Linked DNA regions of Homo sapiens: region 2 is linked to region 1. Evidence: fine-mapped expression QTL. A gene starts in region 1. The other region holds a variant in brackets. All regions are shown on one strand. Distances are between the middles of the regions.

Evidence for each region. PIP is the estimated chance that this variant, and not a neighbour inherited with it, causes the effect.
Region 2: its variant is the best candidate, but not a certain one, in a credible set for the expression of FBXW5 in whole blood (TOPMed, PIP 0.87).

Annotation. Positions count from the first base shown.
Region 1 is chr9:136,941,613-136,946,966 of GRCh38, reverse strand. FBXW5 (F-box and WD repeat domain containing 5) reads left to right here and starts at 2,229. Exons shown (of 9, transcript NM_018998.4): 1 at 2,229-2,373; 2 at 2,861-3,076; 3 at 3,461-3,618; 4 at 4,024-4,198; 5 at 4,272-4,420; 6 at 4,501-4,921; 7 at 5,283-5,354. The coding sequence starts at 2,884. C8G (complement C8 gamma chain) reads right to left here and starts at 1,724. Exons shown (of 7, transcript NM_000606.3): 1 at 1,509-1,724; 2 at 1,197-1,333; 3 at 968-1,038; 4 at 775-882; 5 at 401-502; 6 at 278-316; 7 at 1-199. The coding sequence starts at 1,646. The coding sequence ends at 186. RefSeq lists silencers at 2,186-2,765, 3,146-3,215 and an enhancer at 3,051-3,816.
Region 2 is chr9:136,969,290-136,974,643 of GRCh38, reverse strand. LINC02692 (long intergenic non-protein coding RNA 2692) reads right to left here and starts at 5,232. Exons shown (of 5, transcript NR_157392.1): 1 at 5,171-5,232; 2 at 4,585-4,758; 3 at 3,601-3,680; 4 at 3,068-3,146; 5 at 1,760-1,967. The variant G/A (reference allele first, on the strand shown) is at 2,347.

The DNA.
Region 1 (5,354 bases):
AGACATTTAATAAGTAGGTACCACTCCACCCACTGTCCTCTGGGGCAGCCGGCAGAAGATCCCCTGCCCTGGGTGGCAGGGCCCTGATCTGAGGCTGGTTTCACGGAGGACAGGCAGCGGGCACCCCACTGGTGGGGTCGTCTCTCGGGGCACTGACTTCTCAGCACTGGAGCTGTGTGCCGGCCTCACCTCCTCACTTCTGCAGCAGAGACGAGACTCAGCCGGTGGCAGTGGCCCCCCTCACCACGCCGCCATGCTTGCCCCGCTGTGCACTCACCGTCCAGGACGTGGAACTGGTCTGCAGCCTCGCAGAAGCCTGGGGGCCCAAGGCAGGGGTCAGGCTGGACATCAGCCCAGAGAGTGGGGGTGGCTGAGCTGGGGACCTGCTGGGGACACTCACCGTACTTGGGGAAGTAGAAGATCTGGTCCTCAGTCAGGTGGGCCTCCTGGACCCGCTGCTCAAACCCACTCAGGACCGAGTCGCTCACAGGGAGCGAGCGGGCTGCAGGGCAGACAGGGTTCCTGGGGTCCTGGCACCAGGCGGCGTGGAGGGCTCTGGAAACGGGGTCTGTGTGTCCCCTGCCCCCTCGGGGCCCTCTCCCTGCTCCCACACCAGGCCTGTCTGTCACTACTCCCTGGGCCCCTGCTTAGCAGGAGGATCAGGATGGGAGAAAGGAAGTGTGTCCCCATGGGCTCACCCAGCCCCTCGGGGTGGCCCAGTGAGTGTGCAGAGCTTGAGCGCCTGCCTGGTCACAGAGGCTGGCCCCCACATACCGTAGAGCTTCACTGACAGCTGCCCCGCCCGCTCCAGGTACAGGACAGCGAAACTCTGGTAGTCGGTCTCAGCGACAACCACGTGCACAGCCCCTCGGGCGTCTCGGGCTGGGGCAGAGCCACAGTAGCCATGTCAGAGAGCCACAGTGGCTGCGTCATCCCCCACCCACATGCCCTGCAGCCCCTGCCTCACCTTGAAGCAGGAAGCGGCCGAGGACCCCTGTGTCTCCATAGAGCTGGCGCACCTGCCAGCAGATCCCATCCCTGGGGGGGCGGGGAGGAGGCACCACAGGCTGGGAGACCCCAACCAGGAATCCTAGTCCAGGCCACAGCCGGGGTGGGGTCAGGGGCCAGAGCAGGGCTGAAGTCCGGGGGCTGAGAGGAGGGTTGGGGTTAGGGTGCAGGGCTGCTCTGGGACTCACAGCTTTCGGAAGGTACTGACAGCCATGGCTGTGCCCTGGGGAGCCACATGCAGTGTGGTGGCCTCGGCCCGGTGGCCCTGCTCCTGCAGGAAACGGCAAGCGGAGCCCACAGCCACAAGGAGCCAGGTCCCTGCAAACTGGGGGCAGACCATGGGAGAACTCGAGGGCACTGTGGGAGGGCCCCTCACCTGCTTCCCTCTACACCCCCCACAACTTCACCTGCTTCCCTCTCCCCCGCAACAACTTCTACCTGTCTCCCTCTACCCCTCCCACAACTTCTACCTGCCTCCCTCTACCCCCCCCAACTTCTACCTGCTGAGCATCAAAATTGGCCTTGGGCTGGATGGTGCTGATGGGGGATGCGGGCCGGCGTGGCCTCTGAGGCTTCTGGCCCAGCGAGCCAGCTGCCAGGAGCAGAGTCAAGAGGGTCGCAGTCCCAGGGGGCAGCATGGTGGCGGCAGCAGGGTGGCAGGACTGTGGGAGGCCAAGGGTAGCACCACCAAGTCCCAGGACAGAGTCTACTCTGCTGTCACAGAGCCCAGCCCAGGAAGTCCATGTCCATCCGTTGCCTCCCCACCCCCCACCTCCAGCCTCCTCGTGAGCCTAGCTTCGATCTGCACTTCCTGGCAGGGCCCTGGCACCATGTCCTATGTACAAAGTCCGAGTTGACCTCTGGCTGTTTATCCATTTCTCCTGCACCCCTGATTTCCACCGACAGTCCTTAGCCCTTTACACGTTATCTTCCTTAAACCATCACCCAGTGGTCTTATCTCCATGGCCAACGTCACGGGGTTCATGAAGCCACTTGCTCAGGGCCCGGCAACAGGGAGCGCCGGAGGCGGGTCCCGAACCAGCGTTCGTTGAGCCTCGCCTGCAACCCCGCCCACGACCGCCGCCCGCTGGCCACAAGGGGCGCTGTTCCCAATGCGCCCGAGTGCGCGCAGGCGCACAAAGAAAAGCCGGCCAGGCCGCCGGAGCCCAAGGCGCAGGCGCACGAGGGGCGGATGCGGGCTACCCGCGCGCTCTGCCTTCCTCGGCCATCGATGCCTCGGGGCTCGTGGCGTCGGGCCTGGCGGGCTCCCCGTTGGGCGGGGGCGGCGGTCCGAGCGGCTGCGGCAGCGGAAGCGGGTCCGGGTCGCGCAGGGCGGGGGCGGCGCAGCGGGCGGAGGCGGCCGTGGTGAGTGCGCCTGCGGCCCTCGGGGGTCCCGCCTTGTCGTCCCCGCCCGCCTTGGGCGAGTGCAGGAGCCCCGAGGCCGCCCGTGCGCTCGTCCCCGCCGTCCGCCCCGAGCCCGCCGGGCAGAGCTGCTCCAGGGCCGCAGGGCGGAGGCCACTGCCTGGCCGCCCCGAGCTTCCTCTCGGCGGAAGCCCGTCCCCGGACGGCGCCTGGTGTCCCCGTGCCTCGCGTGCGGCGGTCCGGGCCCTGGCGGGCTGAGGGGCGCCCGCTGCCGGCCGCAGGAGGCCGGGGGATGACGCGGCGGAGAGGGGCCGGCCCGGCCCGCCCGGAGCTGCCGGGTCCTTGGTTGGGCGGCGGTACCCGGGCGTCCCCTGCAGACACGCAGCCCCGTGGAACTCCCGGCGGGACGGTTGGGGCTGGAGGAACAGGACGCCCGCTCTCGGCCTCCCTTCCCGGGCCTGGGCTGAGGGCAGCCGTTGGTGGGTTTCAGGGCCGCCTGGGCAGAATGTCACGATGGACGAGGGCGGCACGCCCCTGCTCCCCGACAGCCTGGTCTACCAGATCTTCCTGAGCCTGGGCCCGGCCGACGTGCTGGCCGCCGGGCTGGTGTGCCGCCAATGGCAGGCCGTGTCGCGGGACGAGTTCCTGTGGAGGGAGCAGTTCTACCGCTACTACCAGGTGGCCCGCGACGTGCCCCGACACCCAGGTCAGTGGCGTGTGGGGCCCCTACCCACGTTCTGCAGCCAGGGCCCCGGGCCCCTGCGCTTGGGGGTCAGCCTGGCTGGGGGCCCGCCCCGCGGCCCCGCGTGTCCATGCTCACCCCCCCACACCCTGATAGAGGCCTGTCAGGACACAGCGCAGGCGCCCCTCAGAGCTTGGAGGCCAGAGGGTTCATTGGGTCACTTGGGGGGTGGGGGGTACAGGGGTCTCTGTGAGCTACAGGGTTGAATCCCCCAGCCGAGGCCTATGCCATGACTAGTGGGTTCCAGGGGCACCACGGGGCCTGCCAGGACTGCTGGGGCCACACTCGGCTCATGGCCGTGACTGCGAGGAAGGCCCGGGCCCAGGACTGACAACTGCCCACCCGCAGCGGCCATGTCCTGGTACGAGGAGTTCCAGCGGCTGTATGACACGGTGCCCTGCGTGGAGGTGCAGACGCTGCGGGAACACACAGACCAGGTCCTGCACCTCAGCTTCTCCCATTCCGGGTACCAGTTCGCGTCCTGCTCCAAGGACTGCACTGTGAAGGTGAGGACGGCCAGGTGTCCTGCACACCCCACCCAGCTCTGCCGCAGCACGGAGGTCCCAGGACCCAGGCGTTCCAACCAGGTGGTGGTGGGGGGGGGGGTGGGTCAGGCCAGAGGTGACAGCAGCCTCCCTGCATCCAGCGGAGGGACCACAGAGGATCAGGAGCGGTGCAGGGTGGCCCTGAGTGCTGAGGAGAGGGTCCCACACACAGCCGCCTGCTTCAGGGGCAGGCTCCTCCGCTCTATACCAATGCCCCCCGAGTGGATGACAGTGGCTGGAAGGGGTCCCTGCTCCCTGGTGGCCTCTGAGTAGGGCTGGCAGAGCTGGGGCCTCATGGCTGTGTAGTAGCAGGCCCCCGCCCCGCGACCTGGCCAGGCGATCACTACAGCCGCCCCTGCCGAACAGATCTGGAGCAACGACCTGACCATCTCGCTGCTGCACAGCGCGGACATGCGGCCCTACAACTGGAGCTACACCCAGTTCTCCCAGTTCAACAAGGACGACTCGCTACTGCTGGCCTCGGGGGTGTTCCTGGGGCCGCACAACTCCTCATCCGGCGAGATTGCTGTCATCAGCCTAGGTGAGCACGGGCGGCGGGTTGACCCTGCCCCCGCCCCACGCCGACAGCCTGTCCAGCCCCGGCCTCCCCACAGACTCCTTCGCGCTGCTGTCCCGCGTGCGGAACAAGCCCTATGACGTGTTTGGCTGTTGGCTCACCGAGACCAGCCTCATCTCGGGGAACCTGCACCGCATCGGAGATATCACCTCCTGCTCGGTGCTGTGGCTCAACAATGCCTTCCAGGTGCGTGCGGGGCTAGGGGCGGGGCTGCCCTCCTGGGGCCTGGCGCCCGGCGCCCACCTGGCACGTGCCCCCGCCCCCAGGATGTGGAGTCAGAGAACGTCAACGTGGTGAAGCGGCTGTTCAAGATCCAGAACCTCAATGCCAGCACCGTCCGCACGGTGATGGTGGCCGACTGCAGCCGCTTCGACAGCCCTGACCTGCTGCTGGAAGCCGGTGACCCGGCCACGTCCCCCTGCCGCATCTTTGACCTGGGCAGCGACAACGAGGAGGTGGTGGCTGGCCCGGCCCCCGCCCACGCCAAGGAGGGCTTGCGGCACTTTCTGGACCGCGTGCTGGAGGGGCGGGCGCAGCCACAGCTGTCGGAGCGCATGCTAGAGACCAAGGTGGCCGAGCTGCTGGCCCAGGGCCACACCAAGCCACCCGAGCGCAGTGCCACAGGCGCCAAGAGCAAGTACCTCATCTTCACCACTGGCTGCCTCACCTACTCCCCACACCAGATCGGTACACCCCTGCCGCCATGCTGCCCGCCTCGGTCCTAGGAGCTTGGGGGAGGCCGGGCAGGGGTCCTGAGGGGCAGACAGCAAGCAAGTCCACAGGCAAAGCTGGGATCGTTCACTCGCCCCTGGGGTCACAAGCCCAGACCTGGGGCCTGTGGGATGAGCAGTGAAAACAAACGCAGGCAGGGCCGCTGGCCAGCAAGCAACCGACGGGCCTGATTCAGGTCTGGGGCCCCCGGAGCAGGCAGTGCCCACGGACCTCTGTGGTGCTCACAGCCCCAGAGACACCACTGAGGTAGGAAGCTGCCCTGGAGTGATGTCCTTGGGGCATTGGACAGGGACCCTCACCGTAGCCCTCCCTGCAGGCATCAAGCAGATCCTGCCACACCAGATGACCACGGCAGGGCCCGTGCTGGGTGAGGGCCGGGGCTCCGATG
Region 2 (5,354 bases), 28 kb before region 1:
GGGATCAACTCCCCCAGCCTGGGACTGGGGAGGGGCAGCCTCTACACCCCACCTTTCAGAGGTACCCAAGCCTCACGGCCCCAGAGGCTCACTCCTGCCAGAGCTGCCCCGCTGAGGATCTTCCATAGGGAAGGGCAGTGCCCGGGATCACTGAGACGCTGTGGAGTGTTCTGGACAAGTCAGGGGCAGAGCAGGAGCACCCCTGAGATTGTAGCCGGGGAGACCAGGGCCGGGTGCGGTGGGGGCAGCTCAGGGCTCCTCTAGGGGCAAGAAATTCTCCCCAAGGCCTCCCTGCGTCAAGGGAGCTGCTCTGTGATTGAAGGAGGCCTGAGTGGACGGGCCACGTGGGACAGCCCCTCCTCAGGGCATCTCTGAGCTGCTCAAAGCACATGGGACCCACTCTTCACCCAGCCCTCCTCTCTGTGCCTGTCTGTTTGGGTGTTCACTGACATGGGGGACGGCCACCTCTCCGCTCACCCTTTCTGGCTGCCTCTGGCCACCTCTCCCAGCACCACCCTGGAGGTCAGGCCCGCCCAGCAGCCGGGGACGGCGCAGAGGACAGGGCAGCCCGGGACAAGCCAGAGGATAGGGGAGCAGATATGTCCCTGGGACTTGAGGCTCATATGTGCATTGCTGGCCATGGGGTCCAAAGACGGTTATGGCCAAGCCTCAGCCAATTCTGCAGCTTTGGAGCCAGGGCTAGGCTGGCTGTCTGTGGGGGACAGATGGCAATTTGGGGGTGCTGAACGATCTGTCCAATGTGGGGTCCAGCAGGCTGGTCAGAGGCTGCCGCATCCCAAAGGTAGCAGGGCCGGGAGGAGGGGGCGGCCCAACCCCCAACACCACACCCGCACCCACACCCGACACCACACCCACACCCCTGGCCTCGAGAAGCTCAGCTCCAGGATCCCGGTGCAGTGGACCTCTGAGGCCCAGTCTGGCTTCAGGAAGCGCCCAGCTCGGCCATGGAAGGTCAGGGCTAAAGTGTCCCCACCTCACCCATTTAGGGGCTGGGCGGGAGCTCCCCAGGAGGGCAGGGTCTGGGCAGGGGCCAAGCCTGGGAGGGCCTCGCCTAAGGACCCCTGGGTCACTGTAGCACCAGGCTGGGCACCGCTCCCCACAGAGACCAGAAGCCGGAAGTACCATTCAGCGCAGGGGCTGGCTCCGGCAGGGCACAGGTGGAGACCCGATCCCAGAGGCTGCTCCCCACCTCTGTGCCCACCCCCGGTCAGGGCTGGGCCTGGATCTTCAGGGACTCCTGCCTCCCATCGGGGGAACGTGGGGTGGCACACAGGGAGCCTGGGCCCACGCCCCTGAGATGGGGGCTCCTGCCTCTCACTCTGGGGTTCCTTTGAGGCAACCCAGGGGGATGGGGCCACAGATCTGAGAAGAGCCAGCGGTGAGGAAAGGGCGCTCCTAGCAGGGGCAAGGGCTGCCAGGTGCTGTGGAGCTGGGCAGGGACCCTTGGTCACAGGCCTCCGCAGCCTCTGTCACCCCACGGTCCCAGCCCTCCAGCCTAGGGCAGTTTCTGCTGGGCGCCATGGAGGGTGGCCTATGTTTGAGGATGAATCTGGCTCTGTTCACCAGAGAGCGTGGGACGGGCCAGGAGAGCACCCAGCTGGGAGGGAGGCAGCCACTGGGGGTTAGATGAGGACAAATGTCCGAGCTCAGCTCCTCCTGGGCCTGGAACCTGGGCTGCTCCCCGAGGCCCTGCCCACCCATCACCCAGTGCTCAAGGACAGTCGGATCCGGCTTCTCCTGGCACAGACTGTTTATTTCTGATGGGGTCGTGGGGGCAGGTGTGGCTGAGCCTCCCACGTGGAGGGGGCACCAGCGAGGCTGGGATGGGCGGTGAGGGTGGGGCTGCCAAGGGCCGGGCCAGGCTCCAGCGTCCTCAGGACAGAGGGTGGCCGGCCCAGGCAGAGAATCACGGAGGGGCTAGAGTGAGAGGAGGGAGAAGCAGAGACCTGCAGGAGAGAGAGGGGTGGAGGGGGTGCCAGGGCCAGGAGGAAGGAGGGCCTCGTGGATCCCAGAGTGGCCCGGGACCCCCAGGACCCCTGGCAGTCACACTCGTGGCTCACCACGGGCTCTTCTGTGAGGCAGGAGTGCTGGTCAGAGGCCCAAGGGTCCAAGGCCAGGGTCGCACGACCTCTGACCCGGGGGCTCCTGCCTGCCCCCAGGGCTGCCTTGGGAGCTGCAGGTGGCCCAGTACAGGGGACCCAGGAGCTTGGGCAGAGACCCTCAGAGGCCCTGGGTTGGGTGGGGGGGACACTCCAGGCCGCAGGTGTGTCCAGGTTTGGGCCCCGCAGTGTCCCCCACACCTGGAGCAGTTGGTAGCGAGGCTCC[G/A]GCAGGGCCCCAGCTCACTCTCAGCTCTCAGAGCCTCAGCTGCTGTGGCCTCAGCTCATGGCCTCCCTCTTCCCACGGGGCCCCTGCGTCTGGGGGGCCTGGCCTCTTCCAGCTCAGAACCCTCTTGCCTCAAGCTTGGCCTTCCCGGCCAAGGCCCTTGGGTCAGAAATGGGGGCTGACAAGGGCTTCCCTGCAGCCCCTCCTCCGGCACTGCCGTCCCCTCCGCCTGCCGTGTACGTGGGGTGCCTCCAGTGACCCCGGGTCCTGCCAGGACCCTCTGGCACCTGGCCTTGACCTCCGGACCCCTATGGTCTCCTGGGCAGTCCTCCCCGCTGGGCTGCACGGACAGGATTGGGGCTGGTGCCTCTCAGGTTGTGTCATTCAGGCACCAGACACCCTCTCCTCGGCGGACACTGCTGCCCGGCCCCAGGCTTTGGCCTGCAGGGCTCTGGGCCAACCTCCCCGCATCAGTGTGGTCTCTGCTTGCCTACCCCACACCCCCAAGGCCTGCCGGGGCCAGTCTGGGGCAGGAAGGGAATGTGGTCAAGGCTGATGCCCAGGATCTGGTCAAATCTGATAAATTTCTCCCTCAGGTCTAAATCCAGCTCCTTCCCCTGCCCTGTGCCAAGAAGGGGGGTGAGCCCTGGGGAGACCCCTCCCTCCCCAGCCCAGCCCTCAGGGGGTCCTGCATGGCCCCTTCCCGCCGTGCTCAGGGCCTCACCGAGCAGCTTGGCCTGGGTCCCTTCTCCTGGCGCTTGGTCTCGGCGTAGCCTCCATCTCGTCATTTTCCAACCCCACTTCTGCACGGAGCAGGCGGGTCAGGCAGGGCTCAGGACCCTACTGCTGGGGACAGGCTGCTGATCATGCCCCCTCTGGGGCCACACCAAGACCTTCCCTGGAGTGTCCATTTTAATTTATTTATGTTTTTCGAGTCAGGGTCTTGCTTTGTCGCCCAGGCTGGAGTGCAGTGGCACGGTCACAGCTCAATGCAGCCTCCTGGGCCCAAGCAATCCTCCCTCCTTAGCCTCCCAAGTAGCTGGGACTACAGGCATGCACCACCACACCCAGCTAATTTTTCAATTTTATTTTTGTAGAGATGGGCTCTCCCCATGTTGCCCAGCCTGGTCCCGAACTCTTGGCCCCAGTTGATCCTCCTGCCTCGGCCTCCCTAAATGCTGGGATTACAGATGTGGAGTGACCTTAACCTGGGGCAGTTCTGGGCCTTTCTTGGGGTGTCAGGCAGGGAAGACTCACCCTCCCGGCCTCCAAGGGGGTTCTGAGCTGGCTGCTTCTCCGGGACAGGGGTCCTGGCCCAGCGTTTGCAGGGTGGGTCCCTGTGGGAGGAGGTTGTGGTGGGGAGAGGCTGGGGTGAAGGCTTTGGGGAGGGGCAGGTCGGATGAGCTGGGGAGGGGAGGCTTCCTGGCCTCCCGGAGGGTCCTGCTCCCCACTCTTCCTGAGGCTGCTCTTCCTGGCAGCCTGCCTGTCCCCGCCTCTGACCACGTCCCCTCCCCGTGGAAGTTCTCACTGGATGCATGGAATTGGGATGTCCCAGCCACAGCCACCATGTCCCTGGGCCCTGCACCCTGCCCTGATCTTCCCCTGCCCCTGGGTCTCAGGACAGGCTCCTCCTCCAAACTGCAGGCCCCGGGGGAGAAGCAGGGGCCCCACAGCTGTGCTGAGGGTGTGGGTGAGCTCCCTCAAGGCAGGCGCTGCCTCCTTCCACCCACGGGGTCCACCCACCTGCCTGTCTGTATGAAGGGTCTCCACCCCACAGCCCTCCGTCTCCCCTCCCCGGGCAGTCCCATCACCCGGCAGGGGCTCTGGGCACCCAGCCTCAGGTGAGCAGGCTGGACATGACCACGGCTGCCACCAACATCCTGAATTGGGACCTGCGCTCCGGCCTGAAAGTGTTGACCGCCAGCCCCAGGACGCACCACTCCCCCAGAACTGCAGGGGCTGGCAGTGGGCAGGGCCAGGACCCCCTCCCCAGGCAGGGGTTCCAGGCTGGGCTGGCACCCGTGACTCTGGCAGGAGTCCGGATCTGACAGGGATGGGTGACCCTGGCCAGTGGGTGGGCAGCCTTCCTGAGCCTCACTTTCTCCACCTGCACAGAGGGCGTGAGCTCTTCCCACCTGGCAGGGTTCTCCAGGGCCATGAGGGCCATGCTCACTGTGGCAGTCAGGCCCATCGGCCCAGCTGCACCCTCCTTCCTCCTTCCCCATCCTGGAGGCCACTCACCCGCTCCTTTCTGAGGCCAGGCTGGAGACAGATCTTGTGGAAAGGCAAGTTCAGGCCCCTCTGGGGGCCCTGGCGCTGTGGCTGGACCGTCCCCAGCAGGGTGAGGCCCACCCACAGGAGTCCCAGGGCTCCACACAGGGCTGCAGGGGGCAGGACTCTGGGGCAGCAGCTGGCCTGGCAGGGGGTGAGGATGGGGGTGGGGAAGGGGGTGGGTGAGGGTCTGGGCTGGGACCCCCTAGTAACGAGGTCCCCTGCTGGCCCCCACCCCAGGACAAGCAACCTCTTTTTCTCCAAGTGCAGGAAGGGTGAGATTTTGCCCCTCTCCCTCCTCAGCAGCGGGGCTAAGGGGCGAGGCAGGGCAGAGGGAGGCTGGGCTGGGGAGGCAGGGGGCCCTCCTTGGACTCAGCCCAGCAAAGATTGAGGAGCGTGCCTTCCACTGGTGCCCACCATTCCCTGGTCTCAACCTTGGGAGGGGAAGCGGGGTGGAAATGTGGGCTGAGGGTGGGCACCCGCAGAGACCACCAGCTCCCAGGGAGGCCCCAGGCCTCAGCTCTGATTCCCAAAGCCCGGGTCCCTGCCCTCGTACCCCTACGTCCATCCTCGGAGCTGTCGCCCCGAAGGCTCCCGGCCAGCCCTGGGTCAGGGTGTGACGGCAGAAGACACCGTGCGAGAGTCCACTGTGTGCCCAGCATGGGTGGCCGCCTGGAGCCTCCCTGCCCTGTCCTGCCCTGAGGCGTCAGCAGGATCAGGCCAAGCTGTTCCCTGGCCCG